Regions from separate parts of the Homo sapiens genome. Here region 1 is linked to region 2. A link means that fine-mapping ties the variant in region 2 to the expression of a gene that starts in the linked region. Tissue or cell type: whole blood. Region 2 holds a variant in brackets; the other region holds the start of a gene. All regions are shown on one strand. Distances are between the middles of the regions.

Evidence for each region. PIP is the estimated chance that this variant, and not a neighbour inherited with it, causes the effect.
Region 1: it holds the start of TMEM245, and the variant in region 2 is fine-mapped to the expression of TMEM245 in whole blood (TOPMed, PIP above 0.99).

What each region holds. Positions count from the first base shown.
Region 1 is chr9:109,118,837-109,121,494 of GRCh38, reverse strand. TMEM245 (transmembrane protein 245) reads left to right here and starts at 1,548. Exons shown (of 18, transcript NM_032012.4): 1 at 1,548-2,160. The coding sequence starts at 1,582. RefSeq lists silencers at 1,399-1,448, 1,589-1,758, 2,109-2,218 and an enhancer at 1,869-1,918.
Region 2 is chr9:109,018,916-109,021,761 of GRCh38, reverse strand. It overlaps TMEM245 (transmembrane protein 245), which reads left to right. Exons shown (of 18, transcript NM_032012.4): 18 at 1,257-2,846. The coding sequence ends at 1,302. Among named protein-coding and RNA genes, the nearest start is that of CTNNAL1, 6.8 kb to the right of the region's middle. The variant A/C (reference allele first, on the strand shown) is at 1,511.

The sequences.
Region 1 (2,658 bases), 100 kb before region 2:
GACCACCCAGTAGATAAGGCATGCAGACCCCTCCCCCGACAACTGCTTGCTTCCTTCGCTTTAAAAGTGCCTGCTTTCTGCTCCACAATTGAAGCAGTAGCCTTAGGGAGGAAACCTGTACTTCTTCCCCTAAGCTAGCTTTGGAATACATCACTTTCTTTATACCAGACCTTGCTCTTGTTAATTGGAATCTGCAAGTGGTGAGCGACTAAACCTGCGTTTTGGTTATAAAACTCCAAAGGCCATCTGAAATACTGAGACCTAAAACTTACAATCGAGATGGATAGGGAATTACTTTTTCCTTTACTTCCTTTACTAAATCCCTTTGTCTCCAAATCTATCAAGCAATAGTTTCTTTATCTGCAAACTGTGGATTATGTTACCTGTCTTGTCTGCTTTAGAAGGGAAACAAAAATTATGTAGAAATTAATAGGAATACTATTGAAACAGGAAAGGGACAACTTGCAAGGTTTGAAGCAATCACATGTTGAGTACTCAGTCAAGGCTTTCTTTTTTTTTTTAAATCAAAATGTTGATTGGGATATTTTATGGGTAGCAGGCTTGGATCCCAGCACTTTTCCAATAGGGGAACAGAAGCACCTTGTACCGCCCCAGAGTTTCCCTTCCCCCACACAATAACCCTAAAGCAAAAGCTATTATTATTATCATCGCCATGTGACAGAGGAAAACTTGAGATTGGGGGCTTAACTGACATTACATCAAGTCTCAAAAAGAAACAGTGGCAGTTTGAGACTTTGATCTACGACTCTTTTAAGAGTTTAGATTGCGTCCACAGCGAAACCTGCACAAACAGTTGTCAACAGCGGCTGCAAATTACAGGCTTATGAGGAACGTTTGAAAAATGCCAAGAGTTCTTTCCTCAGGCCAAATACTATGGTAGATAAAAGTATAGCCTTTGGAGCCAGAATCCCTGAGTTTGAATCTTGCCTGTGCCACTTGGTAGCTGTGTGACTCTGGCTGCGTACTTAACGGCTCTGTCTCAGTTTTTCTGTTGGTAAAATGAGGATAATAACACCTTCTTTGTAGGGTTGTTCTAAGGATTAAATGAGTTAATAGGAGTGAGCCACTTAGAATAGGGCCTGTTATATGGTAATCTCTATTTAAAATCCTGTCAGATACACCAAAGAAAACACTTTAAAAATATCTGTTAAATAAATCAGTAAAACAGAATCGGGGCATTGGTTCTTTAAAAGTACTCCCCCACGGTATTCTAGTATGCAGCTTGGGTTTTAATATCTGAATGTGGCGCCTTTTGGGATCTCGCCTCGCGAGAAATTGACATTAACGAATGAGTGAAAGGAGCTTCCCCCCCCCCCCCCCTCCAGGAAGATATAGACCCTGCAAACTTGTTAGCAGGACCTTGCGGACACCAAGGAGGCGGAGGCGTTTTCCCCATTTCCCCTTCGGGAGTTGTAGTTTCCTGCAAGCGCTTGGTGGGTCTGTAAACCAGCGGGGAACTACAACTCCCACAATCTCGCGCGCCTCCCGCCCTGCCTCCCGCCCGCGTTTCTAGCCCGACTCCCATTACCGCCCCTCGGGGGCGGCTGTGGCGGAGGAACGATGGCCGACGGCGGCGGCCCTAAGGACGCGCCAAGCCTGCGGAGCTCTCCCGGGCCGGCGCCGCGGGTCCCGCGCGCGGTCGGGCCGAGTGGCGGTGGCGGGGAGACCCCGCGGACCGCGGCGCTGGCGCTGCGCTTCGACAAGCCCATTAAGCAGGCCTTCTACAACACCGGGGCCGTGCTGTTCGTGTGCCTGTGCTGCGGCGCCGCGGTGCTGGTCTACTTCATCCTGGAGGCCTTCCTGCGGCCGCTGCTCTGGGCCGTGCTATGCGGCACTTTTCTGCACCCCTTCAAGAGCTCGCTGACGCGCCTGGGCCGCCACTGGCTGCAGCGCCTGCACCGCGCGCACACGCCCATCGTCCTGGCCGCGCTGCTCCTGCCGCTCTGCTTCGTCGACTACGGCGTCGAGGCCCTGGGCGAGCAGGCGCTGCGCCGCCGCCGCCTGCTCCTGCTGCTCGGCGCCGGCGGCCCGCTCCTGTACGGCCTCTACTGCCTCGGCAGCTACTTGGGCGTGCAGGTGCTGCTGGTGCACGCTGCCACGCTCATCTGCCGCGGGCTGGACTACTTCAGCAGCCTGTGGGTGAGTGAGCGGCAGTCCGCCCCCGTCCCCCGCCCGTGGTCCCGGCGCTCTGGGGTGCAATCCTGCAGCTGTTCCTCCCGGTGCAGGGGCGACGAGGGGCCACACCTGTGCTGCAGTGACCGTCCGTCTCCGCTTTCCTTCTCACACCTCAGGAATTTGGCGGACATTCTTCCAAAAAGGGGGCGGGCGTGATTTGAAACAGCCTCCCTGCTTTTCGCCTTGTTTCAATCCTAATAGGCCCTCTTAGGGGGACAGTGCCCTGGATTGAGAATCGTTATTTCGCTTTGCAGAGAGAGGCCTCAGAGCATGGCAGTGGGGCTTGGTTTTACTTCTGGTTGGAGAGGGCGGGGGTGCTTCGGCCACCCTCAGTTCTGCGCATCTGAATGTCAGAGCTGGAAGGGACCTTAGAGATTCTAGGCCAACTTGCCATCCTGCAGATAGGAAAGGTGACCTCTTACCAGGCTAGGGCTACTTAGGGACAAAGAGGGGTTTGGGTGT
Region 2 (2,846 bases):
GCATGACCTAGGCTCACTGCAGCCTCAACCTCTTGGGCTCAGGTGATCCTCCCACCTTAGCCTCCCAAAAGTATAAAAATTAGCCGGATGTGGTGTCATGTTCCCTGTAGTCCCAGCTACTCAGGAGGCTGAGGTGGGAGGATGGCTTGAGCCTGGGAGGCAGAGGTTGCAGTGAGCTGAGATAGCACCAGTATACTCCAGCCTGGGCAACAGAGTGAGACCTTGTCTCAAAAAACAAAACAAAACAAAACAAACAAACAAACAAAAAACCAACTGTAAAGTCAAATATTTTTCTGTATTTCTAATATGTGGACTTATTGTAAAGGAGCAATATAACTTCTATCTAAAAGAATGGTAATAGACTGTGCTTTATATCTGTATCACTGTTGCATAAACATCTGGTCCCAGCCTCTCTCCATCCTGATGTACTGCCAGCCTTGGTGTGAGGCATTTTTGTCTAATATGGGTGCTTGAGCTCATGTTCATTGATAAATTCTGACCTGGCCATTTGGCTGCCAGCACAGATGTAAATTTAGCCAGGTGATTTATCTCAGCTCAGACATGTAAATTATGTAGCAAAAGCAAGCTAGCTACTACAGTACTGAGATAGACACTTCATGTATGCAGCAGTCAGGCACGGTGCTCAGCCACCTTCATCCAGCCCAGATATTACCCGCCAATAACATTGTTCGCTTAGCTTGTTTAATGTGGGTCAGAAACAGTTCAAGTACAAGGTCACTTGATGAAAAGACCTAACCCATTTTTCCTGCACTGAACCACATCCCTTAGAGCTTGGACTCTCTGTTGGATTACGATTTCTATTTTGTAATAAAATGTATCCACTTAGCATTTAATCTTTGGTCTCTTAGTGGTTTTTCCTCTTTAACATCAATCATCATATCCACTTCCAGCCAGTAACAAGGTGGAAGAGCTGAAGAAGATTGCTCTTCTCTTTTAAGGAACTGCCCAGAAGTTGCACAACACTTCTACTTAAATCTCATTAACCAAAGCGTAGTCACGTGGTCATGTGTAGTTTCAGGGGAGTCTGGGGAAACAGTCCTTTGGATAGATCCAGCAAAAAGATGGAGTTCTTGTTAATGAGAATGAGCAACAACTAGCAGACTTTGAAACAATACTCAATGAAAATCTTAAGAAAAAATAGTGACTATATAATCTCATTAGGGCTCCAAAAGATTGTAAAAATAGGATACTGTTTTATGGTAATCAACTAATCATTCCGTCTTTTTTTCTTTTAGGACTTTCCGTGACATTTCTGAAGATCTGAAATCTTCAGTAGGTTGATGTGGTTTCCTCTGCAGTGATTTTTCTAGGAAGTTCAAATTTGACAGCGAGTTCAGCTCAGCTGTGGCCCTCTGCCCTTCCAGCTGTGCCTAGCAAGCAAAACCCAGGAAAGAAGCAGAAGCCTCCTGGCCTTACATACAGAATGCCTGGACAAGAGAGAACTTGCTGCGGGCTGCTTTGTATTTTAAAACACAGCTTGAGAGTTCAG[A/C]GTTGGTGGTTTGCTCACTTAACTGTTGTTAAGATGGCTTGAAAAGTTTCATTTTATACACTGGTACCCTGGCTTGAAATTTTTCCACTTTGGTTATCTATGTTACTATATTATATATTTATAAAGTTATTTTAAGAACTCTAAACTACCTGCTGTTAAAAGAATAGATGGTGTAATTTTTTCCTGGTTTAAGAAATGTATTGTTAAACTTTTCTAAGACAGTCACTTTTCAAGGAAGAGGGCTTTCACTTTTGAGTGTGTAGTTGAGTGAGCAGGAAAAATGAATCTTCTACCCTTCTCCCACAATGTATTATACGCTCTTTAAGAAATAATAAATCATAAGTATAAGGGTGGGGTGGCTTATTTGATGTTCAGTTTTATATTATAACCCTGGGAGATACAAAGACTGAAGCTCTTCCTCCTCTTCCTTTTCTCTTCACGCTTCTTTACACTATTGCCAAATTATAAAACTTGGCTGACCACGTTGAAGTGAAATACTTATTAAGCTGCTATGAATGGTAACAGTATGATAAAATTCATGCTGTTATTAGGTTTTCTCCTTCCAGGTGGTTGAAGTGAAAAATCTCAGGTGTAGCAATACTCTGATTTGTTAAATGTATCCGTTTCATTATTTGGAACTCTGCCAATAAGTTAGTTTTCAGCAGAATTTTGTATTTATGTAGTATTTTCCCATCTCTTAGCACAGTGCCTTGCACATGACTCTAAATGAATGCTTGTTGAATTGAATTGCAACTTTAAAAATATCTCAGATATCACAATAACCAGCATAGTGCTTTACATTTTACAAAGTCCTTTTGCACATACTATTTCACAAGTACATCACATCAGCTTTCATATAGCTTTATATTATTTTACATCAGTTTTACACTGATGGAGAAGCTAAGGTTCAGAAAAGTGACCAACTCAAAGTCGTAAAGTGTAGTAGGATTTGGCCTCAGATCTTTGACTCCGTTGTGTGCAGATTCTGCTGTATTAGTGTTCCTTCTAAATATTGTATGCAGTTTTCCCAGTGTTACGAGATTGGTGTTGCTATCCATTTGTTGTGAATGAAGACTTGTCCTATAGTACATGACAGGGCTGAGAGTGGACTGTAGTTCTTAGCTGAACCCTTTCTACTGTTTAAAACAATCATCAGGCCTATCCTCTGCTCCCAGGGGAATGTGGGAGAGAAAAGGGTTCTTGGCCAGGCTGTAGGTGGTGGCTCACATCTGTAATCCCAGCACTTTGGAAGGCTGAGGTGGGTGGATTGCTTGAGCCCAGGGATTTGAGATCAGCCTAGGCAACATGGCAAAACCCCATCTCTACAAAAAAAAAA